7 linked regions of the Homo sapiens genome follow. The protein of the gene in region 3 purifies or fractionates together with the protein of the main gene of each other region. This does not show direct contact. Each region holds a gene or a part of one and is shown on either strand. Other genes may lie near its edges.

Region 1 (4,272 bases), on a different chromosome or scaffold from region 3:
AAATATTTTGAAGTGATTATTATAAACACTTTAAAATATATTCAACAACCCGAGACAAAAGTACCCTTGGGAATGTGAAAATTTAACTCACTTCTAACCTTCTAACAAAATGTCCGTCCCATATTTACCAGTGAGAAAACAATAGATGCATATATATAATAGGTAAAAAGAAATCATATACATAATACTTTATCAAAATTAAAAGCAGAGGAAACTTTATCTGACCAAGTATCTTTTTATAGCTTTATGAAATTTTTAAAAACCAACATACAAAATAATGATAAAATGTATTAACTATAGTAGTTTAATATAATAGCTAAAGAGACACTGATATTAAACACCATATAATTCTATTTTACATTAGGATGCAAGGTTTTAATTTCCTTTTTTCTTATTTTATCAAAAGTGAAGGAAAATCCTTAATAGATTATATTTTGGTTGTTCAAGAAAGTCTGTTATAATTTTATCCTTGCCAAAACATTTGACACAAAGTCAAATACCTAAGGGAGTAAATGATGCCGAAGAGATTTAATTCACTAGAATACACAAAATTAACAGTACAAGTAGTCATTTTTATAATTCATTCAACAAATATTTGAGTGCTACTATGTGTTGGGTAACTCTTCTAGGGTCTATGGTAGACTAGTGAACACTGTCCTTGAAAACTTAACTAGTAGAACATAACGTAAGGTTTTTCTCTTTTTTGATAGTCATTTATTTTTTTTATAAGATTGAACACTTAGAAGTATGACCAATGACAGATTAAATTCAGAATAATCATTTTTTACATATGAGACTTTCATGCACTAGAGATTAAATAAGCCCTGACATCAAAAGCAATAAAAACTCAATAAAAGGACCAAAACATTAGAGCAGATAGAAAAGACAGCAAGAAACACTTTAAGAAAATGCTTCCTAATAAGTTTATTTTCTATTTGTTTGAAAATACAATGAAGCAAACTGTGTAAATTCAGTTAAATTACTCAAGAAAATTAAAGCTGGAAATATAATCAATAAACATTTCTAGTAAACCATGTACACAGTAAACACATTCCTCACTTCACTGAACAGCAGAGGCAACCGTTTCTAAGTTCCAGCCACTCTTCATAGAGCTCTCCACCTTGGCTGACAGCTAAGGATTTCTCCAGCGCACTTCCTAGAATAATTAACAAACAGCACTCTTTAGCTTATGTCCATTAGCCAAAAAAAAACAAAGATGAGGATAACTCAATAATGGAGATCTTAAAGCAGAAACTGCATTTTATAACTTATATTCTTTCATTTTATTCATGCAGCCTCGATATCTAAATTACAGTACACTACATTATTTTAGCTTTTATTTAAGATGACTTAAGCCCTGAAAAAGACACATCCTAAACTGATAAACATACCTACTTCCTCCTTAGGCCTCTTACTTGGCCACCCCCATTTCTTAATAAAGTAGCTATCTTGAAGGCATTTTTTTCTTGTCCAGGGTAAACTTTCTAAATAGACCAGTATGTTTTATATACTGGATTTTGTATGCCCTTCAACCTCTTAAGAGACTGCCTTATCTATCTTTTTCTTTTCATTCTTCTTCTAAATTGTTTCTGTTAGACAAACTGCTGAATATTCCCAATGAGTAAAAACCCTAGTTCATCTTGAGGAAGGTTTTTGGCCAGTGTACCACGTGCTCATTTAAAAATTAAACTTATAGGGAGGCCAAGGCGGGCGGATCACGAGGTCAGGAGACCGAGACCATCCTCGCTAACACAATGAAACCTCATCTCTACTAAAATTACAAAAAATTAGCCAGGTGTGGTAGCGGGTGCCTGTAGTCCCAGCTACTCAGGCGGCTGAGGCAGGAGAATGGCGTGAACCCGGGAGGCGGAGGTTGCAGTGACCCGAGACTGCGCCACTGCACTCCAGCCTGGGCAACACAGCGAGACTCCATCTCAAAAAAAAAAAAAAACCTAAACTTTTAGTCAAATTCACATATTTTCCTAGCAATACTTACTTAAGAAAGAATAAACTACATTTGAAATGCTTGTTATCTATAAGAATTATTTTAAATGTTTTACTTTTCCTCTAATAAAGAAATATACCAAACAGTGAAGTTCTAAAAGCCCACTAAGCAAATGAGCTCCCATAAAATCGAGTAGTTTTACACTTACATATTTTTTATATTTCAGCTAGGTATTAATAAAGAGCTTCTAAAGAGGTTGCTACAGAATTTGGACTATATACAGAACATTAATGAAACATGAAGAAAAGTATTGAGAATGCTGTGAAAAATAAAATTGCAAAAATGATCCAGGAAAAAATAAAGAAAATAGTAAGAATAAATGTAATCAGTGTGCAATAGGTTATTTAATAAGATGATGAAAAAAACAGTCTGTTATTAGAAATCTCAGGATTTTTGCCTAAAAAGCACTTTTCTCTTTCGTTTATTAAAACCAGAAATCGAATATAACTGGCTTCCCATCCTGTTCATAAAACCTAGCTCTTTTACTTTTTACAACTGAAAAAAAATAGTACATTTTAAAAGAAATCGTTTAATAGATATTGTTTTTTGGCTAGAAGTAAGCTTTGATTACAATTCATACTTATGAAGAAAAACTTCTATAAAGATAACAGAAGTATTGTGTCTAGAGCTATTTTTTTGACTACAGTTTAATATTTCAGTTGAGAAGTTAAGCACACTTATTTTCACAGATAACTTAAAATACATGAGGATAAAGACCATATGTTTACCTTTATTTTTAAAATATTGAGTTTTAACTGCATTGCAGATAATAAACATTAAACAAAGTTAACTAATAACAGAAGCATTTTCAAGTATTTTTCATGAGTTGCAATAGAGTCCATACAAAAGTGCTTTCCTAATTCCTAAAAAAAACATTTTTTCGCCAGGCATGGTGCCTCATGCCTGTAATCCCAGCAACTTTGGGAGGCCGAGGCGGGTGGATCACAAGGCCAGGAGCTCAAGACCATCCTGGCCAACATGGCGAAACCCTGTCTCTACTAAAAATACAAAAATTATCTGGGCATGGTGGCGCACGCCTGTAGTCCCAGCTACTCAGGAGGCTGAGGCAGGAGAATCACTTTAACCCAGGAGACAGAGGTGGCAGTGAGCTGAGATTGCACCACTGCACTCCAGCCTGGCGACAGAGAGAGACTCCATCTCAAAAAAAATAAAATAAAATAAAAAATAAACGTTTTTTCATATGTCTAGATTTTTACTTCTGGAGTCATTTATTTCATGTAAAAATGTAGTTTAATTCTGTTAATAAGAATTCCAAAGTTATACAAAATAAAATTTTATTAAAACTAATTTCAGTATCTCAACCCATATAAATCTTAACAGAAATTAATCCAACTTTTCTAAAGCTATCCACATCAATACAATACCTTGCATTTTCATTTTTAAATATGGAATATCAATTCACCAGAGGAATAAACAGTCACACAAAATCTTGCAACATGACATTTATTGAACTTTACTTACCTTCCCCAAATTCATTTAAAATGACCGCTACTCTTTTACTATGTTGCTCTGTCAAAATATAGTTCAGAAGTGTTGTCTTCCCAGCACCTATAAAACATATTTTTTGTAAATAAAAAAATTCAAAATAATTTTAAAGATACAAAAAACATATAAAGAATCCTAACGTTTTTGAGAATTTGCGTGCTATTTTTCATATATTATTTTAGCATAGAATATCCTAGAGGATAAGATTAAAGCATCCTTCGAAACCTGTTGCAAAATACTTTATGTAGACATAAAATTTTATAAATATTTACAAACACTCCTACAAGTTGAAACAGCTTCTTCAACCTAGCCTAACCTTCCCTAAAATTTACACACAATCTTTTATTTATAATGACCTTTTATTTCAACATTAACAAGACGCAACTTCAGGCTGACTATATGGCTACTTATAGTATGCTTTAAACAATCTATAAAAGTTTTTATGAAATGGGGAATAGAGCCAGGTAGTGTCAACAATGGACAGAATGTTCAGTAAGATAAATTCATAAAGCTATACCAACTTTATCCAGCAGGTGGCATATAAAACCCAATATGTCAATCTCCAGTAGAAAAAAAATAGTCTTGTGAACCGTACACACTAAAATTCATAGAGGAAAAAAAGAAAATCCTAACTGCATAGTATTGTAGTTCAATTGTATGACTATATCATTTCTTTATCTTTTTTTTTTGTTGGACATTTGGTTTGTTTCCAGTGTTTTACTATTACAGTGCTGCTAAAAACTTTTACATGTAGGCTATAC
Region 2 (3,829 bases), on a different chromosome or scaffold from region 3:
ACTGCACCTTACAGGCTTGGCTAAGTCATTTCCAGTCTGCACCAAGGCTCCGTTTCCAGCAGCCCCAGCTGGTATTTCTACATGGCACCCTGTGTGACTGCCACCTGTGGCTCCATTCCTCAGTAGCACACAGGTTGCTTTCCATCCAGCCTGGCTTTGGGGTATAGCTGTATTAGCAGGTAAACTGCTAAAGCATTTTAATACCAGTGGGTAAATAGCTGTTTCTAGTACCCCCAGCCCCTGTGCCATAGCCCAAGGCATCCCCCCTTGTCTCCAAGCCATCATTTAGAAATGAAAGGGCCAAAGGGGCACTGCATGCTGTGTTGCTGCTGGTAAGCTCCCACAGGTGGCCCCCAGAGCCCTCCCCCAGGCTGCCCGAGTCCCTGCTGTCTTCCCTCTGTGCCCCTGCTGTCTTCCCTCTGTGCCCCGCTTCTCTCCTTTTCTGTCTTCCTCTCACCATACAACTTCCTCAGACTGAAGGCTGGTAAAGGTTGGCCAGTGTTAGAACATGCAGTGGTGAGTTGGACACAGACTGTTCCTGAGAATGGTGACTGTGACCAGAAGGAAGGCAGCACAGTGGGTGCCATGTGAATCTGCGGTCAGCCTGACCTGGGGCCTCTGAGCCAGCACTGCCCAGCCAGGTTCCTCAAGTATAATGGAGTAACCCAACATATCCCAAAGTGTTAGCCAGGTACCTGACAGAGTCAGTATTCAATAAATGGTAGCAATTACTGCTTTTTATGAGGCCTTTTAGGATAGTGGCAGAGGGAAAACGCTTACTGGATGAATCCAAACAGGCTTTCAAGTTGTTTTCGATCAAGGACCCTCCATGATTGCCATGGGAACACACAGAACTCCATTAGACTGCAGGAAGTTCCAGCAATGAGAAGGCAAACCCCGTCTTAACCTGTCAGCTCCACAGAGTAAGGCAAGGATAAGGTGGTTTACTTTGGTGTGAGAAAATCCTAATAAATACACCTTGTGTGTAAAAAAAACCACAAAACAAGGCTTTTGAAAAAAGCATCATTTATTTCAAAGTACAACACAAAGTTGTATTTTTAAGAAATACACATTCAATCTTGTATCTCAAGACTTGGCTATGTGCATTTCAGTTCATCTTTAAAATAAGTTCAGGTATACAAATGTTACATACCTCAAGTACAAACAGCACAGAAAATGCATATGGTCTCAACTGAATGTTTTTACATTCATTCACCGTTCTTAAGTTGACTTACATTTCTGTAATCTGCTTTTAAACCAAGACAGCCTTACTTTAAAAAAATACTCTATTTTCAGCACAAAGTCCTCATACAGTTTTAAAATTAGATCTTGGCGCATAATATTGAGAAATTATTAAAAACCAAACTTGGTAATTTAACAAAATTGTCACATGCCAGGATTTCTGAATCAACTCAAATTATTTCCTTAGCTGTAATGTCAAATCTGTGTTCATACAGATAAATAAAGCATGGGGAAGACAGGTGGTGAAAACGCAGTAACGGGAAAGGTTCTCAGATGTACAGGTCTTATTAGAGTTTGTGGCTGAGTCCAGACTTTTCTCTAAAAGCACAACAGCAAATCTCATGTTATCATAATTGCAAGAAAGATCTGAAAGAAGCGAGTGGTCTGAGCCTGCCCTGCTTGGGTCTGTTTTGCAAAGAAGAGGAGGGTGGGGAGGGGAGCTGCAGTAAGAGCCTTAAAAAGATGTCTCAGAAACTGGCACATCATGATCTAGACGAGGGCCCACTATGTTTGTTTGTTTTTTGCTTAATTTAATTCTCGTGAGGAAAGTGCGAATTAGACCAAGGGTCCGAGCTTCTTCTTCCAATCGTGGGGCTCCATATCCGCCACGGGTTGTAGGTCTGTCCCAAGTCGTCAGCTGGACTGGAGGTGGAGGGAGCGTGAGGAGCAGGGGAGTTTTCTGTGCCCATGAGGCCGATGCTTGCCAGCGTGTTTGCTGGAGTGGTGAAGGGAAGGGCGCTGCTAAGGTTGCTGGACCAAATGGAGCTGCTGAATGGAGTGGTGGACCACAGGCCGCTGGTGTTACCGAGGACCGACTGCGACAAAACAGAAAGCGTCCAGCACTGAGCCCGGCAGGCAGAGGGTCAAGTGGGTAAGGGGGTAAGGCTACAGAAAAGATGAGGCTGGGGCACGCATTCCTCTTACTTTGTTTACTTTAGAACAAATGTTATATATATGTATTTGAGCAGATGTTTCTGATTTTTTTGAGACAGGGTCTTGCTCCATCACTCAGGCTGGAGTGCAGTGGTGTGATCATGCCTCACTGCAGCCTCAAACTCCTGGGCTCAAGTGATCTTCCCACCTCAGCCTCCCAAAGTGCTGGGATTACAGGCACTAGCCATCATGCCGGCTAGTTGTGATATTTTAAAAAAGACAGCTTGTGGACCAAATCCAGCTCTGCCTACTTTTGTAAAGAGAGTTGTATTGGAACACAGCTGCGCCCATCGGCCTGTGCACTGCAATGGCAGTGGTGAAGCATGGCCTTCAGAGCCTCAAATAGTTACTATCTGACTCTTTATAGAAAGTTTGCTGACTCCCACTTTGGGAGGCCGACGTGGGCGGATCACGAGGTCAGGAGATCGAGATCATCCTGGCTAACATGGTGAAACCCCGTCTCTACTAAAAATACAAAAAATTAGCCGGGTGTGGTGGTGGGCGCCTCTAGTCCCAGCTACTCAGGAGGCTGAGGCAGGAGAATGGCATGAACCCAGGAGGCGGAGCTTGCAGTGAGCCGAGATTGTGCCACTGCACTCCAGCCTGGGCTACAGAGCAAGACTCTGTCTCAAAAAAAAAAAAAAAAAGTTTGCTGACTTCTCTTTTAAAGAATGGTTAAGGTGGTTTTAAAACATAAGGCTGAATAATTACACATGAAGACAACCTTTGGAATCTGTAAAGTTGAAATATCTGTTATAAAACCTTGCATGTTTAGTTTCTCTGAGAACAAAGAGGCAAACACAGTGGGGTCATATTTTTCTGTCATAATTTTGTGGAAGCCAAAACCACTAATTATTTTCCTTGGCAAGAATACTCTTTTCAGCATGGTCTTTGCAGAAGACTTTAGCCAAGAAGCAAACAAATGCACTCTTGAAAATCTAACCTAAGAGACAGGTGCTTCTCAGCAACAAAGTAAATGCAGTATCTAGCTTGCTCCTGGGTGGCCAGTGGCTGCATTGCACAGATGCCGAAGGCTTCCCTCAACCATCTGAACCTGCCATAGGCCTATGGTCACCCTTGTGGTCCATTTACAGGTTGGGAAGAGGCAGAAAATGCCCTTGAGCTATTAGGAGGGACTCCAGAGACCAACCCCATAGCTGTTCAGTTGTTCTTCCTAAAACTTCCTGATTGTAATGGCTCTGAAGAACATCGATCAGTCATTTTGACAGAATATGAAGACAAAGCAATGGAGACAATAAAAGTACTAACCCACCCCTCTGATGCTGCTGTTTGTTGTTTATAACTATGTCAGTGCCATCCATGTCACAGCAATGGCAGATGGCGAGTGGGTGGGCCAGGTCCAGGCCCCAGCCCCAGCCCCAAGTACTCACTGTGGCTGTGTGGGTCGGGGAGCCGGAACTGGCTGGCCAGGAAGGACTGGGATCTGTCGCTGGCGACTCCCAAAGGTATGAAGGGCCACTATTAAACTCGTTCCAGCTCCTCTGTGAGGCCTGATTGCACGATCGAGATAATCCGAGTTTGCTGAAAACTTCTGGAAATAAAGCAACAGTCATCAAGTCCATATTTGGTTTTGCCATGATCACTATAGCATATGGGGCTTCACTCAATGGCATACCTCCAACCACTGCTCCTG
Region 3 (4,949 bases):
CTGCCCCAAGCTAAGGACAGTATGTTGATAACCAACATACTGCATATGGAGTGACCTGCATATGGAGGCAGCTCCCTCCCATACCGGGTGTTCTGTGGTGTGAAAGGCCACTCATTCACCTCTCCCAGAGTAAACACTGAGGCATGCATTCTCAATGAAGTTGCTATTTTCCATAAAAGGTCACAACTGGTTTTTGGAGTGTAGGATTATCTTAGATATTACAATGGTTGGTTTGTCAATGATCAATTCTACCAAACAAAATCTTATTCCTTAGTACTTAATTGCTCTTGTGTATTCTTGGGTAGCACACAAGCCACACTGACATTGAGTTCATGGCAGATACACAAAATGTCTACAAGATAAGTTCTACAAAATTGCAGTTATTCACAATAGCCAAAATATAGAAACAACTGAAGTGCCCATCAATGTATAAAGGAATAAAAATGTGATTATACACACACATACACACACACAAACATGCAGTAGAATACTATTTAGCTTTTGAAAATCAGAAAATTCTGTCACTTATGACACCATGGATATTATGGTGTGAAATAAGCCAGGCACAGAAAGACAAATACCACATGATCTTGCTTATATGTGGAATGTCGCTTATATGTGGAATCCAAAAAAGTCAAACTCAAAGAAGTAAAGAATAGAATGTTGTTACCAGGGTCTGGGGTGGTGGAGAGTTGGACAAGGAAATGGGAGATGCTGGTCAAAGCCTATAAAGTTGTAGTTAGACATGAGGAATAGGTTCTGGTGATCTATTGCACAGCATGGTGACTATAGTTAATGCATACTTCAAACTAGCTAAAAGAGTAGATTTTAAATGTTCTTACCACAAAGAAGTGATAAGTATGTGAGGTGATGGATATGTTAATTAGCCTGATTTGATCATTTCACTGTGTAGACATGTATAAGAACATCACATTATACCACATAAATATATACAATTATTATTTGTCAATTAAAACCAAGATAAAATTTAAAAAACCATCAAGTTGTACACCTTTAAAAACAAATAAGTTCTACAAAACAATGGAGGACTTTATTTTGAATGGTTTTGCCATCTTACTCGGTATATTCCTTTTCTATCGCTGAATAACAAATTACGACAAACTTAGAGGCTGAATACAACACATATTAATTATTTCACAATTTTTGTCCATTTGTAATTCAGATATAGCTTAGCTGGGTTCTCTGCTTCAAGGTCTCACCAAGCTCCACTCAAGGTGCCAGCTGGGCTGTGTTCTCATCTGGGGGTTTGACTGGGGAAGTGTTCATTCTAAGTTCACTCAGGTTGTTGGCAGAATTCAGGTCTTTGTGGTTGTAGGACTGAGGCCCTCAACTTCTAGGGGCTTCCCTCAGTTCATTGCCATGTGGGCCTTCTCACAGGCAGTTTGCAACATGGCTCCTTGCTTCTTTAAGGCCAGAAGTTGCAAAAAAACTCTAGTGTGATAGATCTTACACAACCTAACATACTCAAGGGGGAGACAGTGCATCACTTTGGCCATATTCTATCAGATAGAAGCATGTCACACACAACTGAGATTACATAAGGGTGGGATAGTTGGGAGTCACCTTACAGTCTGTGTACCTCACCCAATAAGTACAGTTAAAAATTCAAGTGAGTTTTACTAGCTTTAAGTATCTTAAGTTAGCTTTTACCTAAATATTTTTAGTCATCCTTAACTCTCCATTGAATAAAAAGAGGAAGCTTTATAGTTACCCTTCCTATGTATAAAGCACAGACAGATATAAATGCAGTACATAAACCAACAAAGAATATATCTAAGTTATTAAAATTTCATGTTGAGGCTATTATGAGTTGAATTGTATGCCTCCGAAATATATGTTGAAGTCTTAACCACAAGTAGCTCAGAATGTGACCTTACTTGGAAATAGAGTTACAGAGGAAATCAAGTTAAAATGAGGTCATTGAGGTGGGTGCTAATCCAATATGGTGGATGTTTTTATAGGAAGTGGAAATTTGGACACAGAGACAGACATACATGGGAGTAAGATGATGTGAGGATACAGGGAGGGTGGTGCCACCTGCCATCCAACAAATGTTTGAGGCTACCACTGCTAGAAGCTCAGAGACAGACATGGAACAGATTCAACCTCACAGTCCTCAGAAAGAACCAACCCTGCCCACACTTCGATTTTGAATATCTAGTCTCCAGACCTGTGAGAAAATTAATTTCTGTAATTTAAACCACCCAGTTTGCAGTACTTTTTAAGAGCAGCCAAATGCAGTGGCAACAGAGAAATAAAAAACTGAATTTCACAGAAAGAAGTGTAAAATCTGCCAGGGGCCAGGTGTGGTGGCTCACGCCTATAATGCGAGCACTTTGGGAGGCCGAGGCAGGTGGAACTCTTGAGCTCATAAGTTTGAGACCAGCCTGGGCAACATGGTGAAACCCCATCTCTACAAAAAAGACAAAAATTAGCTGGGCATGGTGGCGCGTGCTTGTAGTCCCAGCTACTTGGGAGTTGGAGGCACGAGAATCACTTGAGCCCAGGAGGTGGAAGTTGTAGTGAGCCAAGATCGCACCACTGCACTCCAGCCTAGGTGACAGAGTGAGACCCTGTCTCAAAAAAATAAGTAAAGGTAAAAATAAAATAAAATAAATTACACCCTCCAGAGGCTGGAGGGTGAGAGCTGTGATGGATGCTGTGCCCCGCCCTGTGACCATAGGTGTGAGTCGTTTACCTGAGCAAAGAGATTTGCAACAGACATGGCCACCGGGAGACTTTGTCAGAATTGGGGACCATCCCAGTGTAGTCTTCTGAGTTCTGCCTGTTCTGGGATAAGATGGAGAAAACCCTCCCAAAAGAAATTCTATGGGAACAGGTGAGGGAGAGTTCACTAAACAGGCAGAGGGGAGAACCCACCACACACATACACTGAGGCCCCACTCACCTGCCAGTTCAAGCAGCAGATACAGCAGTAAGGAAGGCAGAGGTGGGTGGAGTGGGGAGGCAGGGATGGGCATTGTGGTGAAACCTGGAGCTTGCTCTGCCTGAATGCCTGTCCTGGAGATGCCCTCGACTCAGTGCTCCGAGCAGAGAAGACAGTTCTTGCCTCTGTGATGTCAGAGGAAGGGGATTGTGATGAGAGGAAAGGCCAGGGGACTGGGACACTTTTTCCTTTGTGATTATAAAATTGAACAGACAAGGTTGCTTCAAGCTAGGAAGTTGCTGCTGGAAGTATTTAGCTTTGCTGGGGCTGGGGGGCTTGACACCCACAGCCTTATACTCCTTCCTGAGTTTCATCCCATCTCACAGGTTCTCCCCAACTTCATGGCCTTTGCCTATCTAGGAGCCTCAGACACATAGGCTAGACAAAGGCCTCATCCACATGATGCGCAGGTATGGGTCTAGCTCCTGCATGAGCTCAACATCTGGGCCTGTCTGAGCTGCACAGCTGAAGAAAGAGACAAGATGTCTATAGCCTCACCCACTTGGTAAGAGTTGGACTTTACAATGGATGCCCTTTCTTGCACTCCAGAGTAGTTAGAGGTAAAAAACAAGCAATATCTGCTGTGGGCTCTTGGCTTTTCTGTGGGTCCCTCCATACACTACCAGGAACTGCTTCCTTTTTCCTTCCTGCAGAGGAATCAGGCATGGCTGAGAAAGACATTCGAGTTGTGCAGGTGGTGATGATTTGTGCTTTAGAGGATGGAGGAGGCCTGCAGGGAAGGCGGAGCTGCGGGGAACACTCTCTAGGAGGGAGAGTAACATGCCTACAAACACCTGGGAAGGTGAGGGCTGCCTCTCCTGCTTGGGCTGGACCTGGGACCAGCTCTCAGAGATGGGATTGGAGGGGCAGAAGAAATGCCCCCAGAAAGAGGGAGGAAGCAGCATGTTGGCATCCTTCTCTCTCAGCTCTGGAATGGGTTCTTCCTAAGCACAAATGTTGTGTTCAGGGACACTCAGCCCACACTCAGCTGGTGACCCTTTAATGTCCAAGCATCCACAGGCAGGCACTGGCTGCCATGGCTGTTTCCCCATTGCCTCCTCATGACTTCTGCCTCCTCCTCAGGAACCAGCTAGATGTCAGGGCCGGGAGAGGTGTTAGACCCTCTAGGAAAAGAAAGCAGAGCCAGGCTGGCACGTTCTCTCTGAGACGACAAGAGTCCCCATCCCCTTGTGATGTCATCATCCTATCCCGTTGTTCTGAAATGATGAATTCCACAAAGGAATTCCTATCCATGGCCCCTGCTTGGAACTAGACAGGAACATTCCTCCAGCCTCCATCATCCTCCCCTTCCCCTACTCTGAGGAATCTTCTCACCTTTCATTAGACTCTAAGTTCCTTGGAGAGTCAGTACTCACGGGTCAGTATCCAAGAGTGCCAGCTTTGGAATCAGATATAATCTAGGCTAGAATCCTGAACGCACCTCCTAAGAGCTGAGTAATCTTGGGCCCATGATACAGACCTGTATATTCTGCAACCTTCTTGACATCTTCATTTGTATATATATATATATATGTATTTTTTTTTTCGAGACAGAGTTTCGCTCTTGTTGCCCAGGCTGGAGTGCAATGGTATGACCTCGGCTCACTGCAACCTCTGCCTCCCGAGTTCAAGTGATTCTCCTGCCTCAGCCTCCCGAGTAGCTGAGACTACAGGCGCCCACCACCACGCCTGGCTAATTTTTGTATTTTTAATAGAGACAGGGTTTCACCATATTGGTTAGGCTGGTCTCGAACTTCTGACCTCAGATGATCCACCTGCCTCAGCCTCCCAAAGTGCTGGGATTTCAGGTGTGAGCCACTGAGCCTGGCCTCTTTGTATACCTTAAATATTCAAGTTTGAGTTTCAGATCTGCACTCACAAACCTTATCTTCTCCCACACCATGCCTGTTTTGTATATGGTACCATCATCTAAGCAGTTTGTCAAACCAGGAAGGGACTCATGTTCTATACCCTCACTTAT
Region 4 (4,272 bases), on a different chromosome or scaffold from region 3:
GGTAAGAAAGGTAAAATTTAAAAACTTAAAATATATCTATTAGCTTTCCTAAAACTCCAGTTGCATAAGTCACTGTTGTAGAATACACAGAAGGAAAACTTAAAAGACATAGTCTACCCATGTGTTTGGGGGGTATCTGAGTGCTGGCAACATCTGTTGCTATTAAGACTCTAGACATATATGTAGCTATTACAGGGGAGAAAAGTCTTAGGATGCAGGACTTAAAATAACATGTGTTGATTCAGTATCCTTAAAACACTTCAATGAGAATCAGCATTGAAGTTTCCAAGGGACTAGCAAATCCACATGATTGACGAAAGACAAACAGGGAAAAGGAACAATAGGTGTATAACTATTAGTCACCTAACTTAAAATAAAGGCAATTTAAGTTAAAGAGTCTGGACTTCAGATAATTGCTATATTAGGCAGGACAGAATCCCACACTCTTACCGCAATATAGTAAAATAGTAATAGTAATAGAGGCACCATTTGCAATGGGGCACGTATCTCCCTCAAATGGAACAAAGAAAAGGTGACAAAATGAATGTTTTCATCTTTAGAATTCCAAAGAAATATTTAAAAAGAGGTAAAATGTGGAGTAAAGTATGTTGGATGGATAACAATGTAGTAGGAATTTACTGAACTCAGATTATGAAAAAAAGAACAATTTTGCTTGGAATAAGGACTTCTATGCTCTTTCATAATTATCTGAGCATTTTGCTGATGTGAAGCAATATTATCTTGCCAAAATCCAAATCTGTGTATGCTCAGGATCTTCCAGCAGTTGATTCTATTATGGAGATAATTTCCTTTTCTTTGTAAAATCAGGCTGAAATCATAGTTTCAAAGGGTCATGTTCTGCATATTTTGTTTCTGGAATATATCAGCAGCATATTGATTCATTACAATGGGGAACAATTCATTCTTTTTCACAAGCATGGTAAACAGGAAAATAGAATGAATTTGTTGACATTTACGGAGGGAAAGTATTTGATCATGAGCAACAGACGTCAAGAAATTTGCAAAAATAAATAAAAGCACTAGCTATTCTTTGTGTTGATCACACAAGGGGCAGTTTATAAAAATTCATCAAGCTATACATTTAATCTAATGTGTACATATCGGTACATACTTTATATTTCAATGAAAAGTTTAAAATAAATAAATAATAAATTCTGGAAAAAATAATTTGTCCAATTCTGATCCCATGTTAGAGATCAAACTACTATGAATCGTCAGTGAGAAATGAACAAACTCCTGGAGATTGGCTCCAGGACCTCTGGATGGTATCAATATCCACAGATGCTCAAGTCCCTTATATAGAATGGCATAGTATTTGCATATAACCTATGCACATCCTCTCACGTACTTTAAGTCGTCTCTACATTATGTATAATACTCAATACAATGCAAATGTATGTAAATAGTTGTCATACTGTATTGTGTCTCATTTGTATTATTTTGTATTGTATTGTCATTGTGTTTTTTTCTGAATATTATCTACCCGAGGTTGGTTAAATCCACAGATGAGGAACTCAAGGATTTGGAGGATCAATTGTATTCCTAAAAGTGTTATTTACTAGAACTAATATTTTTCTCTCATTATTATTCTCATAGCAGGGAAGAGTTTTCTCCAATCTCTATCATTAGAAGATATTAGTTGCTCTGTGATGTTAAAGGAAAAAACCACATATTGGCAGAAATAAAGTGTGGAAGGAGCACTGTTACTTAAGTATTTATGTAAGTTATTGATCTTAGAATAATTTTCAATGTTTTTAATAACGTCTATGAATTTAGTTGAATTATTTAATGAATAATCATTCATGTATCTAACATCAAGTTCTAAACATACATGCTTATTTAATTAAAATATTTTAAAATTTGAACTGTATAATCTGTCTCAAGTATTTTGCCTTCTCATTATTCCAAAAAAAATCCAATTTCTTTCTTCTACTTCCAGCAATGTATGCTTCTGAGAAAATCTGATAACTGAAGTACAATTATGGCAGATCACCTGAGGTGATCACCTGAGGTCAGGAGTTTGAGACAACCCTGGGCAACGTGGTAAAACTCTGTCTCTACTAAAAATACAAAAATTAGCTGGGTGTGGCAGCTCACACCTGTAGTCCTAGCTACTCAGAAGGCTGAAGCAGGAGAATTGCTTGACCTGGGAGGCGAAGGTTGCAGTGAGCCGAGATTGCGCCACTGCACTCCAGCCTGGGGAACAAAGCAAGACTCTGTCTCAAAAATAAATAAATATAATAAAATAAAAATTGGATCATAAACATTGCTATAAAAATAAGTGGAATCATGACTAAAAAACATAAGCATTTACTTCATTTCTGAACTCAATCTAAGTACGATAATAATGGATAAAGTATTTAGACAGCCAACTAAAATTATGTAATATATGTCTTTAAAATGCCACTTAAGCAAGTTTAAATTTTTTCCTTAATAATTTTGAATATAATGATATTCTAAAAGCAATACTGAGTATTTTTTATTACCTGGTTTTCATAACATGTGTAAAGAATAATGGAAATTTCACAAGTACATTAAATCTACTTTCCCAGCTTCTTAGTAAATATGCATTTTCTACAAAAGGAATAATATGGAATAATGTAAAATGTTCATTGGGGAAAGTCAGCCTAGAATGACTCAAAAAGGTTTTAGGATGAAAATTACATGTGTGAAGGAGTAAATTAACTTTAGGTTTCCCCAAGTCATCTGATTGGTAATATGACTACATTATCTGATAGGTAATACAATTTCACACACTTCAAACCTTTTCGGCCACTTTTCTTCTGCCCTTATCTGCTTAACCTCTAGAAATTATCATTGGTATTGGTTCCTCACCTGCTGATTTCTGGCAAACGAAATTTTAAATATAAAACAACCCCTGCAAACTGCTCCGCCAAGTAAAGTAATTCATACTTTGTGTCAAGGTTCAAGGGAAGGCACACTGAAACAACCTGGAATAAAAGAAACCAAATAAACAACAAGAAAATCAAAATGCACAGGTTATTGCTTAATGTTTGTGTGAGGTCATGCATTTTTGTTTGGTTACTAATGTATCATCTGTAATACACTAAAATAATTAAGAATATTTTTGGTAATAATAAATACATATCTTCCATTTCCTTGTATAGTCTATCTATCAGTATAACCTCCAAGAATACATGTGTTTTAAAGCCTCGTTCAATGTGCATGGCTTTCGATCTTTGTCTTTAATACTTCCTTTGCAAATTTTCGTCCTAAACACAAACTCTTTCTTCAAGAACCAATATATATTTCTTTAATTAACAGTCAGGTATATTATCTCCCATGAATTATGTCTGAAAATTATTTTTATTTGAAGTCAGAAATAGGTGTAAGAATTAATGTACCAATAAACAGCACCTCATTCATTCACTCATTCATTTATTAAGCAAAAGTTTTCTGAGCAAGAATGTGCTATCTAGATAGTAAAGGGAATACTGGAAAACATGAAGGAAATAAATATAAATTCAGATCTCATAGTCTCCAAGGAATTTACAAGAACATTATTTAAAGTCATCACATATGGTATCAAGTATTTTTTTTCTACGAGTGAAAACAAACATTAAAATGAAAAGCTTTTAACATACAAATTATTGAACACATATGAGGATATTTTGAGGAGAATTACGTACATAGCACTATATTAAATATAGGCCCAGAAATAACATTTTATTTCCCCTTAAAACTTTAATAAATCTATTTCAAGGCAGACGGTGATATGTAACTACACCAAATACAGAAATAATAAAGGACTAAATTACAAAATAGATGTTCACACAGCATGGCATTTCAATTAAGTAGTAACGTACCAAAATTACAACAAATGCCAACTAGCTTATTACCAAGTAGGTTGCATATTATTGAATGTGACATTTTTCTGGACATATACAGCTTTGTTTTGGCAACAGCTATAGAGGTATGTATGTATACTTAGTTAAATCATTATTTAGGCATTTTTTATGGTCTGCCTCATAATAATATATAATTTTACCTTCACTTGTCAAAAAAAGATGCAGGAAAAAAAGAGCTCAGATGGTGACATTTATTTCAATGAAGTAAAAATGAGCACCTACCCCCAATATTCAATTCCTGGGTCAATTATGCATTAAATCTAAGTAATTAAAAGCAAGTTTGAGAGACACAGATTAAGAAATCAACCTCTCTGAATTATGATATACTTAAACCCCACTAAATCCTAGAAATGGTTAAAAGGGTACATTAAAACTGCACTTG
Region 5 (4,272 bases), on a different chromosome or scaffold from region 3:
GAACAAACCCAAGTCCCGTCTGCTCACCTAAACAGCACACCTTTGATGACCTGCCAGGCATTGGGTGCCGGCTGGGCCGGTGGGTTCTGAGGCTGGGTCTCCGCTGGCGGGTCCCTCCCGATGCTGCCATTGCTGGTCACCTGTGGGGGACAGAGGCCAGGGTAAGGAGGGAGAATGGACACGGGGGCTGTCTTAGACACCATCATGCATGAAGGCCAGGCACAGGCTGGGCAAAGAGTGGGTGCTTATCAATAACTGGAGAATGAATCAGTGAAAACACCTGGGAAGGTGCGGTCCTCTTCTTTTAGGAGGAAAACACTCGCAGAGCACCTCTGTGACCTAGGGACAGTGGTGACCTAGAGAGTCTTTTGCTGTCCTCCTGGGGTTTAACAGCCCGGTGGGGGAGAAAGATTCATCTCTAGACAGTGACTGTCCAGAACGGGGCAGGAATGCAGGAGCCCTGAGAGGCACCTGGTCCAGTCTAGGGTTCGGGGCAACTTCCTGGAGAAGGGGGCATTGAAGCTGAGACCTAAAACATAGCAAGTTGGTGGCACAAAGGAGGAAGTGAGAGAAGCAGCAGGTGCAGAAACAGAAGATTAGAGGCACAGTCTGATTCTGATGACTGTCCACTGTTCCCTGGGGCTGGAGCCAGGATGCAAGGAGGTGGCTATTGGGGACAACAACAGAAGGAGTCTTATGGCAGGTGCCAGATTCTTCAAGGCTGGGGCTTAGCTGAAAGAGCCTTCCCTGGGCAAACCATTCCTGAGGCCCCCTCTGTGGCCAACCCTGCCCTCCAAGGGCCCCTGGTCCAGCAGGTGGGACAGACACAGAAAAACACAACCAGACTATCAGCTGCTACCATAAGCCACGGCCACAAGACATGTCTGTGACAGCACACAGCACACTAATCCTGAGGCCAAAACTATGACCAGCTCCATCCGGCTGCTGAGCAAAGGGAGGCTCAGAGAGGTGAAGCCACTTGTCTGGTCACTCAGGAAGGACCGCAGAAGCAGAATGACAGAAGGGAAGGGGGGCAGGCAAGGGAGCCAGGCACGGCTTCCCAGAGGAGGACTCTTCACTCAGACACAGAAGGTCACAATCAGAGACTCTCTGAATGCCAGGTTTGGAAGGGGATGTTCTGCTCACCCTTCACGCACCCTGCTAGCTCCCCAGTCCTGTTCTCATTCACCCCTCCTCCCAGCTGTCCCCTCAGCCATCAGCCTTCAAGAGGCAGGACCAGGGCTATCACAGTCACAGTTAGCTCAAGAGCACCAGTGGCACAGAGCAAGGCTGTGATAAACACCTGTGTGGCCACCGCTGCCTGAAGGACTCACCCCGGACGCTCAGGTCACCCAAACCCACTTCCCTCTGAGGCTCCAGTGTCTGGCCCTCTCCTCCACAGCCCCTAGTCCACTCCTCTGCAATGTTTTCTCCATTCACCTTACCCACCAGATAGCAAATGTCCCAGGAGCATGGTTAGAGGGGCTACATGTGTTAAATGTGTCACTTGTCACCTCCTGTCCCCTTCACCAGCAAGAGCTCTTTCCTGTAATCTCCCAAAGCACAGGACACCATTGGAGGGGCTCCAGGGTCAAACAGACCTCAGCTATAGTCCTGGTCCCACCGTTCTTGGCTGTGACACCTTGGGCACATCACTTCACCTCTCTGACCTGTGGACCAGGTTGTGAAAATACTGGAACATTTTAGACAGAAATCTGGGCCCTGCTTACCCAGAGCTGGGGATCTAGAAGGAAACACACTAGAACGGTAAACAGGATAATTAAAAATGGTACATGGAAAACAAGCAGGGGGAAGTGACAGCAACTGAGTTGGGAACAGGGATCCACTTTGGAGTGGGTGGTCAGAGAGGCCTCCCTGAGGAGCTCCCTTTGACGTCTGGGTCGTCTGGGTGAGACCCTTAGGCTGAGACAGAGAAAGCCACATTCTGATGAGGAGATCTATGGGGCGGGGGTCGGCTGGGGAAGGGAAATCAGACAGGCACAAGGCCCCCTCCTCAAGGCCAGCCTAGCTATTGGGAAATTTAGGGGTCCAAGTATGGGTTTCAATGGGTCTGAGCTGATTTGGGGTCAGGAAAGGACACTTGATGCCAGGTCAGGATTTGAAGCTGCATCTGACTGACTCCCAGGTCTCTTCGCTTACCCGTTAGTGATGGGCAATCTGGCTGGGAACCTTCCCACGGAAAGGCAAGTTAAAACCACAATGAGGTGTCACTTCACACCTATTAGGATGGCTATCAGCAGAAAGACAATCACAAGTGCTGGCAGGGATGTGGAAAAACAGGAACCCTCGTATGCTGCTAGGGGGGAAAGTAAAAGTACAGCTACTTCGGAAAATATGGCAGTTATTGAACAAGTCATATGTGCACCTACTACACAATCCAGCAAACCCATCCTGAATGGCTACCCAGGAGGCAGAAAACATGAAGCCAGACCAGGCGCAGTGGCTCACGCCTATAATCCCAGAACTTCAGGAGGCCAAGGCAGGAAGACTGCTTGAGCCCAGGAGTTCAAGACCAGCCTGGGCAACACAGCAAGACCTCATCTCTATAAAAATACAAAAATTAGCCAGGTGTGGTAGTGCATGCCTGTGGTCCCAGCTACTCAGGAGGCTGAGACGGGAGGATCAATTGAGCCTTGGAGAATGAGGCTACAGTGAACCAGGATCACACCACTGCACTCCAGCCTAGGCGACAGAGCATGACTCTGTCTCAAAAACAAACAGTGGCCAGGTGTGGTGGCTCATGCCTATAATCCTAGCACTTTGGGAGGCCAAGGCAGGAGGATCCATTGAGCCCAGGAGTTCGAGACCAGCCTGAGCAACACAGGGAGACCCTGTCTCTCTTACTTAGAAAAAAAAAAAAAGAAACAAAATACAGCCACAGAAAAGCCTGTACATGAATGTTCATAGCAGCATTATTGGCAACAGACAAAAACTAAAAACAATCCAAATATCCTTCAAGGACTGAAAGAATAAACTGTGTCATGTCTGCAGACTACCACTGAGCAGTGAAAAGGAACAACTGTGAGCACGTACTTTAGGATTTCCCCAAAGGCCAAATTTCCCTGATCCTAGGTTGTAAAAAATAAAATAAAAATGAACAACTGCAGATCTATGTAACAACATGAACCTCAAACCCATTATGCCCAATGAAAGAAGCTGGACACAAAAGACTGGATGTTGTTTAGATCCTTGTTTAAGACATTTTTAGAAAATTACAGAGATAGCACCTCTGTGGCTGCCTAGGATTGGGAGCAGCAGAGACTGTAAAAGGGAACTTTTTGAGGGGACAGAAGCTTTCTCAGACCAGACTGTGGTGATGGCTGCACCACACAACTGCATAAATGGACCAGGAGCCAATGGACTCTATCCTAAGAACAGGTGAACGTTATACCATCTAAATTATACCACAAGGCTGGACGTGGTGGCTCACGCCTGAAATCCCAGCACTTTGGGAGGCCGAGGTGGGCAGATCACCTGAGGTCAGGAGTTCAAGACCAGCCTGGCCAACCTGGTGAAACCCTGTCTCTACTAAAAATACAAAAATTAGCTGGGTGTGGTGGCAGGTGCTTGTAATCCCAGCTACTTGAGAGGCTGAGGTAGAAGAATTGCCTGAACCCAGGAGACGGAGGTTGCAGTGAGCCGAGATTGTGGTGAGAAAGCGAGACTCCGTCTCAGAAAAAAGAAAAAAAAAAAAAGAGTCACTCTTTTCAGCTCCTATTTCCCTCAGAGTAAAGGCCAAGTCCTCCCCATGGCCTCCAAAGCTTGGCATAATCTGCATCTGTCCCCAGCCACCCCTCTCCCCTCACCCGCTCCAGCCTCCTCGCCCTTCCTTCATCACACCAGGCACCTCCCACTTTAGGGCCTTCGCACTGGCTGCTCCTTTGCCTGAAAAGCTTTTCCCTCGTGTATCTTTGGGACTCCCTCTCTCACTTCCTTCAGGTCTTTGTTCAAGCGTCACCTCCTCAGAGAGGCCTTCTAGACTACCCTATTTAATTGCAACTCTTCTACCCACCCCTCACTTCCTATCCCCATCCCAGCTTTATTTCTGTCCATGGCACGCAGAGCCATCTGAACTGCTGTTTTTCTTATTTATCTTGTTCACTGTGTGTCCCTGTCTGTGCTTCCCCTATAAATTCAGCTCCAACTAGAACATAAGTGTAAGGGCCTTCAAGAGGGCAGCACCTATTTTATTCACAGCTGTATCTCCAGCATCAGCAAAGGCCTAGCATGGAGTAGACTCAATTCGCATTC
Region 6 (4,272 bases), on a different chromosome or scaffold from region 3:
CAAGACCCTGTCTCTTTAAAAAAAAAAAAAAAAATTAAATTAGCCAGGCATGGTGGTGCACACCCATGGTCCTAGCTACTTGGGAGGCTGAGGTGGGAGGATCACTTGAGCCCAGGAGTTGGAGGTTGCAATGAGCTATGATCACACCACTATACTCCAGCGTGGGCAACAGAGTGAGACCCTCTTAAAAAGGGCCAGGCACAGTGGCTCACGCCTGTAATCCCAGCACTTTGGAAGGCCGAGGCCGGCAGATCTCGAGGCCAGGAGTTTGAGACCAGCCTGGCCAATATGGTGAAATCCCATCTCTACTAAAAATACAAAAATTAGCCAGGCGTGGTGGCAGGCGCCTGTAGTCCCAGCTACTCGGAAGGCTGAGGCAGAAGAATCACTTGAACCTGGGAGGCAGAGGTTGCAGTGAGCCGAGATTGTGCCACTGCACTCCAGCCTGGGCAACAGAGCAAGATGCTGTCTCAAAAAAAAAAAAAAAAAAAAAAATCCACTGGCGAGTGAGGCATGGTGGTACATGCATGTAATCCCAGCTACTCAGGAGGTTGAGGTGGAAGGATTGCTTGATCCCAGGAGTTCAAGACTAGCCTGGGCAACATAGCAAGACCCCATCTCAAAAAAAAAAAAAAAAGTCCATTGGCATTAGCTTTCCTCACCAGAACTTTAGGATGTATCTCAGATTATTCTTCCAGTTTCTAGATCTCTTTCCCATCACAAGACTGAAGAAGCAAACTACTTGCAGAGATGGAAGTAGCCAGATGTGGAGATGAGTTCACTGACCACTTTGATGTTTTTCTGCCAGTGATGATAAGTGGTAACCAAAAGGGATGATCAAGAACTTCCTCAGTCACAACATAGCCTATGAGCAGACCTCAGAAACATACCCTTCCCCATTTCTCTGTAGATGTGAAATGTGAAATGTGACAAGGGCCAAACATCAGACTCTTCCCAAAGGTTCCGATGTCCAGTCTGGGGACACCTGGGCCAACACAGCAGCCCCAGCTGTGAAGATGGAAGGTCCAAGAGGCACCAGAGAAGCAGATGATAAATGGACCACCTCAAAATCCAAAGACTGGAAGAAAATTAAAACAATAAAGAATAAACTTGGCTGGGTGTGGTGGTTCACACTTAATAATCCCAGTACTTTGGGAGACCGAGGCAGGAGAAATGCTTGAGCCCAGAAGTTCAAGACCAGCCTGAGCAACACAGTGAGACTGTCTCTACCAAAAAAAAAAAAAATTAGCCAGATGTGGTGGCACATGCCTGTAGTACCAGCTACTCAGGAGGCTGAGGCAGGAGAATCACTTGAACCCAGGAGGCAGAGGTTGCAGTGAGCCAAGATCACGCCATTGCACTCCAGCCTGGGCAACAAGAGCGAAACTCAGTCTCAAAAAAAAAAAAAAAAAAAAAAAAAAAACAGGAAAGGAAACGAAAAAGCTTGTGGTACTAGCTGTTTCTTCTGGATAAAAAACTGGCCTTGATGACTACATTAAAGAAAGAATATCAGATAAGACCATGCATTCTCAGTGAGTGCAGTAACAGCCCAGAAGGGGTGAAAATTGATTCTTGGGGGAAAAAAAGTTAGATATTACAATGGTTTGTGGCCATCCAAAGGGCCACAATACAAAAACAGATACACAGTACATCTGTGGTATTAAAATTCCATTGGGGGTAGCTGGGCACGATGGCTCATGCCTGTAATCCCAGCACTTTGGGAGACTGAGGTGGGCAGATCACTTAAGGCCAGGAGTTCAAGACCAGCCTGGCCAACATGGCAAAACACAAAAACTACTACTAAATAACACAAAAATTAGTTGGGCATGGTGGTGGGCGCCTATAATCCCAGTTACTCAGGAGGCTGAAGCACAAGAATCACTTGAACCCAGGAGGCAGAGGCCACAGTGAGCAGAGATCACACCACTGCACTCCAGCCTGGGCGACAGAGTGAGACTCCCTCTCAAAAAAACATTCCACTGGGGAGTAGACAATTAAGGGAAAAAAAGTCTCAAAATATGATAATGAACAAAAGGTTGAAAAATAATTAGATGAACCCAAAGGGTTGAGTCTTAGATGAACCCTAAGGGCACAGTGTTCATTAACTTGTATAATGGTCATGGGTAGGGTAACTAACTTGTCCTGGTTTGCCCCGGACTTTCCTGCTTTTGGCACTAAAAGTCCCACATACGGATATCCCTCTGTCCTGGGAAAACTGGCATGGTGGTCCACTCTTCTCAAGAGAGAGATCAATGAAGGCATTCCCATTTCACAAATGAGGTGACACCAAGAAACACAGTGGTTGTCACGGATTCACAGCACTTTAGCAGCATTCCTGAGGCAAGGCTGGCTCTTTCCATTTGTCTAGTCCTATGCTCACAACTCTCTGCCCCTGATTTCCACTTTGGCAGAGAATGTTACTCATGAATTGATTATGCCACTTCCTTCTCAATACCAAAGCCAAGGGCAGTATTAGGAGGATGAAGGCAAACATGGCCAGCCAGCATAATCACAGCCATGTCTTACAGCTGCCTGGTGGAACCTGAAGGAACTACAAGTCTGGGCTGAATATAGTTTTGTTGCTACTGGATTCTGGGTACAAATTTGCAAAAGTAAGAATGCCAGGTGTAAACTCCTCACAAGCTAGGAAAATTCCTAGCTTGAGGTTCTCCACATGTGTCTGAGCAGCCCGAATCTTTTACAAGGTTTTTGTCCCAAAGATGAACTCAGTTATTGCTTATGCTAGGAATCAGGGGTTACCCAAGGCCTCACTCTGAATGGCAACAGGCTATTCTCCTACTCCCCTACTCAGCAGTGAAATCCTTGGTGAAAGTAAAGGAAGAAAAGAAAAGGGCATGCTATTCCGTCTTTAGTCTACGTATAATTAAAATACAAGACTCTCTGCTGTAGAAGACTAAGGTTTGCAGTTTAAGGCCGACTCAGAAAAGGATAAAGTATTCATCCTTGCTCAGAAAGAGAGAAGATTAGCTCCACAGGATGGGTCTCCAAATTGACACCAAATCCAGGAGTTAGAGATGGCTGTGCTACAGAGCGTGATCCAAGCACCATCTGGAGCCCCCAGAAAAAAATCCCTAGGAATAGCGACTAAGGGACTAGCATTGTAAGAGAGTTCAGATTAGCTCTCCTGAAAAGAGGCTTACTACAAGAGACTGGCAGACAGCCTCTGCAGCAAAACTTCACTTAGGAAAGGACAGAAAATGAATGAAGAAAGACAGGGGGAGGCTGAGCAGGTCAGAGTATGAATCCACAAGTATGTGAAAAAGAGAATCCACCTATTTCGAAAAAGGTACAACTTCCTTTCAGAGCCTTTTTTTTTTTTTTTGAGACAGAATCTCTCGCTCTATCACCCAGGCTGGAGTGCAATGGCACAATGATCTCGGCTCATTGCAACCTCCGCCTCCCGAGTTCAAGTGATTCTCCTGCCTCAGCCTCCCGAGTAGCTGGGATTACAGGCATGCGCCACCACGCCCGGCTAATTTTGCATTTTTAGTAGAGACGGGGTTTCTCCATGTTGGTCAGGCTGGTCTTGAACTCCCGACCTCAGGTGATCCACCCACCTCAGCCTCCCAAAGTGCTGGGATTACAGGTGTGAGCCACCGCACCCGGCCAGAGACTCTCATGTTCTTTTGAATATTCTCATTAACGGCAAATCTTCATTCTTTGAGGGTGAAAACATTTATTGCATTCCTATGTCCCAAGAGCTTTCATGTGTAATACGTCATTTAACCACCCTTCAAAGTAAATATTATTCCCAGTTTTTTTTGTTTTGTTTTGTTTTGTTTTGAGACGGAGTCTCGCTCTGTCGCCCAGGCTGGAGTGAATGGCGTGATCTCCGCTCACTGCAAGCTCCGCTTCCCAGGTTCACGCCATTCTCCTGCCTCAGCCTCCTGAGTAGCTGGGACTACAGGCACCCACCACCTCGCCCGGGTAATTTTTTGTATTTTTAGTAGAGACGGGGTTTCACCGTGTTAGCCAGGATGGTCTCGATCTCCTGACCTCGTGATCCGCCCACCTTGGCCTCCCAAAGTGCTGGGATTACAGGCGTGAGCCACCATGCCCGGCCCTATTCCCACTGTTATGTAGTGGTACATTGAGCCCCAGAGGTGAAGTAACTTATCCAAGGTTATGTGGCTAATAAGTGGTAGACTCAGAATTAAAACTCATGTTCACCACCCTCCAAAAATCTGTTATTTCCACTTCAAAAGAACTGTTAACTCATCTGAAGACAAGGCAGGTGACAAGGTTGCTTAC
Region 7 (4,272 bases), on a different chromosome or scaffold from region 3:
GCGCCCCCATGCTTGTGGATCGTGTAGCACCTTTGAAACGGGTGCTTTTGCCATTCAAACTGCCCTGGGAATTGGCTGGGTGTCTGTGGTGTCGGCTAAAGACCCTGAAACGTCCATTTTTGGGTGGGAGCTGAGGCTGGCTCAGCCCTGAGCGGTGCTGAGCTGTGACGCCCAGAACATGGGGCCACCCCCGTCCCAGAGGGGTCTTGTGGGTACGATAAACAGACAGCTTCCCTGTGTGGCCGGCAGGGAGTGGAGGTGTCACGTGGCGTCTCTGGACGCCTGTGCTTGGGGGAGAGGTCCTTCGTGGAGGGCTGTGTTGGTCTCTAGAAAATTCTGTGGGTAGACACCAGGAGGCATGAGGTCCTGGGAGGCACCTGTGGGCCGTGTGACCTCCATGGTCTGTGTGGCCTCGGACTCGGGTGTACAGACTTCTATCCTGAATGGGAATCCACATTTTTGTGTTCTATGTTCTTGGCCTAGATTACTTTTCATCTCTCTCTGAAATCTCTCCCAGGTAGACTGGTCATTTACAGAGTGAGTGTAGGACCGTCTGCCTGGAGTCCTGACTGCCCCGAGTCCCAGCTGGCCCATGAGCTCAGACTGCCCCTTGGGCCTCAGCACCCGCAGGGCTGGACGCTGATGTAAACTCAGCTGTGCTGTGGTTGGTTGCACGCTGGATAAAACTTTAACCACGGCGGCCTTTATCTTGGTCACCAACAGTTATGGTGGGTGGGAGACCTGGGGGAGGGGGTACCAGCCTTGCTCTGGGGGCCCTGGAGAAAAACTCACAATGAGGCGAAACCTGGAGAAATCCAAGCTCCAAGTTCAGTCTTTCTAACCGGAGGTAGAAGGTGCCGGGCCAGATGTTAGGAACTTGCAAACATTCTTTCTGCTGATTAAAGTGGTGATTGGTCTTGAAGACGTTGGGCTGCGGGTCACATGCTCTGTGGCCTGAGCTTTGTTCTGCTTCTGGGTGAGATTCTTAGAGAGGCTGTGGTGTAGTCCGTCCCTGCCACGCACACCTGGACGTCCACACTGGCACAGGCCCGATTTCTACATTTCCAGGGGAAATTCAATGGTTCTAGTTGTCAGCTGGGGCGACCCTTACGGAGCCTGTGCCCTCACCTTTGGGAACAGAGACTTTGTCTCTCCTGCCTCTGGGGGTGGGGTCCGAGGCCTACAGGCCCTGTGTAGGCTGGGGCGGTGGGTGGGTTTGGGAGAGGCATGGGATGGTAGGGGCTGAGCTGCCTTGGGGTCCTGTGGGGTTGCAGGGAGGCAGCGGCCTCTTGTGAGGAGTGACTTGAGCCCCAAGGGACCAGAGCAGGCATTCGGCGGTGGGTCCTCGCTCACCCTCCGTGTGCCTCCTGGGCCTGTGGGGTCCTGCGCAGGTCTGTGGCCCCAGTACACGTCAGGCTGGCTTGGGGTCCCAGAACTTTGCTGTGTCCTGTGAGGCAGGTGCTTGGGTTTCCTTGTTTACACTTGGTGACCCTGCGGCATCTGCTTAAACCGAGCCTGAGGTGATTTCCAGTGCCCTGTGGGTGGTGGGTTGCTTATCCGAGGAAGCAGACATGCAGGGATCCTCGGAACTGACAGGGGCCCAGACTCTGAGGTTCACCGGGGGCCCCCGGAGCTGGGACCCACGCCTGGCATCTCACGGGAACGGGCACAGATGCAGGCCCCTCCCTGGGCTGAGCACCTCCAGGGCCCTCACGAGAGGCCTCTCCTATCCTGATGGGGTGGAGGGGCAGGAGGGATCCGAGGAGGCTGATACCTCTCCTCTCCCCAGGGTATTCGCCTTTCATCAGGGGACGGGGGCCCCTAAGCCTTTAATGCTGCAGGAATGGGTACATAATGTGGAATGTCGGTGCCGGCCGTCTGGCAGCAGTGACGCCATCCCCTGGGCCAGGCCGGCTCCCCAGCACTCTCCGGCCAGCGCCGCGGTTTCCCTTGCCTCCCGTTCCTGCACTTGCTGTAGCTGCGAGAGCCGACGGAGGCTGAGCCGGGCAGCGCCAGCCCCGCCGAGCCTGAGGTGAGCCTGAGCCTTTGGCCTGGCAGCACGACCCACGGGAGGTGGACGAGCTCGTCTGTGTGTCAGAAGTTCCAGTTTGTGCTGACTCAGGAGGACAGAGGCTCCGTGGGCTGGAACCCCGGACAGGAGAGGGTGTGTGAGCCCCGTCCCCTGCCCAGCCAGGAGGAAATCCCCCGCTCCGGTGGGTTTCGTTGGTGTGATCGTGGTGCGTTCATGCTGCATAATCGGCTTCCTTGAGTAAACTGAGACACGCCGATGACCAAGAGTTGGCCGGAACACGGGGGCAGGCTGCTCCTCCAGGGGTACACACTGGGGGCCAGGCGGGAGGGGACCCGGCCCCAGGACCTTGGGATTTGGCTGACTACGGGCAGGACCTCTCAGCCCTGCACCAGCCGCCTCTGCAGGCGACACGGACGCCTTCCTTGGATGCTGAGGAAACCCCGCAGGATGGGGGTGGCAGAGAGTGGTCAGGTGCAGCTTCCGGCCGTGCCCAGACCTGTGCCCAGCAGACCTGGCTGAGGCCGTGTGGGGCTGCTGTTTGCAGGCCAGGGAATCCGGGAAACGGGCACCGTTCAGTGGCTTGGGGAATGTGGGTGGGGGCTGTCTGGTTCTGGGGTACACAGACCCGAGACAGTCCAGGCAGGTCCCAGGATTCCAGTCTGTTCTTCAGCTTCTCCCAGGGCTGTGTGTCAGATGCTCCTGGCTTGGCCACATCTGTGCTTGGGGTTTGGGGTGCAGGCTCTGTGTAAGGCCCCCCAATGCAGGCCCCAGTGAGCAGGTGCCCAGGGCCGGGCAGCAGCATCGTGGACACAGGCAGTGGGAGGGGAGGGGATGCTGCCTTGATGCTGATCATGAGCACGTGGTGCCGTCCCTGGCTCTCCAGGACGCCGGAGTCCTGCAGCGTCTCAGGGGCCTCAACGCCTCCCCCCTTTAAAATCCTGCCCCTGGCTGAGCCCGTAGGTGAATGACCAGCTCGGCGGGCGCAGAGCCCCTGCCGATGAGCCCCCTCCAGGAGCCTCAGAGTTTGGAGAAGTCCTTGATGGGTGGGAGGGATGGGTGGAAAAGTGTGGAAGATAATTCTCATTATTTCCTGGAAGTAGAGGAGAGGGGCTGATTTTTCCAAGGCGTCCCATCTCTCGTCCATCTTTGGCTTCCTGCTTGGTGCCTTCTCTCCGGCCACTGTAATTTTCATTTTAACCATCTCTGGGCTTGTGGAGAGGAAGGGTGTGGCCCCCGCCAGCTTCCTCACCAGGAAGAGGGAGGGAGAAAGGGAGGCAGGGGGAAGGGCAGGGGCTATGGGGCCAACACCCCCGGGGCACCCCAGCAATGGACTGCAGCCTGGAGTGCGGCCGCAGCGCGACGGTGATGATGGTGGCCTTGAGGGGAGCCTTGGGAGCTCAGCCTTGGGTCCTCGAGCCCACTGGAGCCCACCCTCCACCCCTACCCACTGCTCCCTGTTCTTGGCTCCTCTGAAAGCACCTTATCCCCGTCACCGGCTCCTCTAAAAGCAGCGTGTCCCCCCGCTACCCCGTCACCACCTGTGTGGGAGACCCAGTAATCGTGGCCACAGAGGTTTCCCGTCGGAACTGTGTGAGTCCCTCTGGCTGTCCTTACCTGGGCAGTCCTGCCGGACCGGTCGGTGTCTGTCATTCTCAGCCTCTCCTCGGAACCAGCCGGTCCTGCCTCTCTACTTAACACCTGCCGTGCAATCTAAGTCCCCGCAGCAGCGTCCCCAACCCCACCCTGCCGGTCCCTCCCACCCTGTTCATGCTAGCTCCTGAGAGACCTGCCTGAGATGTCCACACCCCAGCCCTCCCCCTCCGAGGAGGATGGACCAGGATTCCAACCCTTTGCCGACCCTCCCCACCGCCCTGGAGACGAGGTGCAATGTGTCCGTGAGCAGCGCGTTCCGCAGCCTTTATGAGCCTGGCTCCTGTTAATAATTGTCTCCCGATTGTCTCCCGGCGTCCACCGGCGTCCACCCTGCATTCTCCGTGAAGGTGACTTCTGCTTTGTAAAGCTCAGAATCAGAACAGGGAGGTCTCCAGGGTGCTCCTTACGAGCTCAGCTGTCGTTGGGTCGTCTCCAGAGGCTTCTAGCAGGCGAGGCTGCAGGCACTGACCGTCCCCGGCCCCACACCCCTGCCGTCAGCCGGGTGAGCCAGGGCGGGGTACCCAGGGCACGTGAGGGCAGCGTCTCCATCCTCCCCCTCGGCCGTCCGCTGAGGTCGTGGGGCCGTG

Evidence for each region.
Region 1: the proteins of SIRPD (region 3) and ZNG1A purify together in Homo sapiens (affinity purification with mass spectrometry; one large-scale study listed by BioGRID and IntAct). This does not show direct contact.
Region 2: the proteins of SIRPD (region 3) and TMEM131 purify together in Homo sapiens (affinity purification with mass spectrometry; one large-scale study listed by BioGRID and IntAct). This does not show direct contact.
Region 4: the proteins of SIRPD (region 3) and PROS1 purify together in Homo sapiens (affinity purification with mass spectrometry; one large-scale study listed by BioGRID and IntAct). This does not show direct contact.
Region 5: the proteins of SIRPD (region 3) and CLPTM1 purify together in Homo sapiens (affinity purification with mass spectrometry; one large-scale study listed by BioGRID and IntAct). This does not show direct contact.
Region 6: the proteins of SIRPD (region 3) and SIL1 purify together in Homo sapiens (affinity purification with mass spectrometry; one large-scale study listed by BioGRID and IntAct). This does not show direct contact.
Region 7: the proteins of SIRPD (region 3) and METRNL purify together in Homo sapiens (affinity purification with mass spectrometry; one large-scale study listed by BioGRID and IntAct). This does not show direct contact.

What each region holds. Positions count from the first base shown.
Region 1 is NC_000009.12:172,211-176,482, forward strand, and holds part of ZNG1A (zinc-regulated GTPase metalloprotein activator 1A), read right to left. Parts: intron 3,575-4,272; coding exon 3,488-3,574; intron 1,157-3,487; coding exon 1,060-1,156; coding exon of another isoform or gene 1,056-1,059; exon of another isoform or gene 279-1,055; intron 1-278. UniProt on the Homo sapiens protein: Zinc chaperone that directly transfers zinc cofactor to target metalloproteins, thereby activating them.
Region 2 is NC_000002.12:97,755,327-97,759,155, forward strand, and holds the end of TMEM131 (transmembrane protein 131 precursor), read right to left. Parts: intron 3,728-3,829; coding exon 3,567-3,727; intron 2,058-3,566; coding exon 1,773-2,057; 3' UTR 1,010-1,772; downstream 1-1,009.
Region 3 is NC_000020.11:1,554,652-1,559,600, forward strand, and holds the start of SIRPD (signal-regulatory protein delta isoform 1 precursor), read right to left. Parts: upstream 3,055-4,949; 5' UTR 3,003-3,054; coding exon 2,930-3,002; intron 1-2,929.
Region 4 is NC_000003.12:93,893,720-93,897,991, forward strand, and holds part of PROS1 (vitamin K-dependent protein S isoform 2 preproprotein), read right to left. Parts: intron 2,973-4,272; coding exon 2,857-2,972; intron 1-2,856. UniProt on the Homo sapiens protein: Anticoagulant plasma protein; it is a cofactor to activated protein C in the degradation of coagulation factors Va and VIIIa. It helps to prevent coagulation and stimulating fibrinolysis.
Region 5 is NC_000019.10:44,957,831-44,962,102, reverse strand, and holds part of CLPTM1 (putative lipid scramblase CLPTM1), read right to left. Parts: intron 141-4,272; coding exon 28-140; intron 1-27. UniProt on the Homo sapiens protein: Involved in GABAergic but not glutamatergic transmission. Binds and traps GABAA receptors in the endoplasmic reticulum (ER).
Region 6 is NC_000005.10:139,191,603-139,195,874, forward strand, and holds part of SIL1 (nucleotide exchange factor SIL1 precursor), read right to left. Parts: intron 1-4,272.
Region 7 is NC_000017.11:83,085,754-83,090,025, forward strand, and holds part of METRNL (meteorin-like protein isoform 1 precursor), read left to right. Parts: intron 1-4,272. UniProt on the Homo sapiens protein: Hormone induced following exercise or cold exposure that promotes energy expenditure. Induced either in the skeletal muscle after exercise or in adipose tissue following cold exposure and is present in the circulation.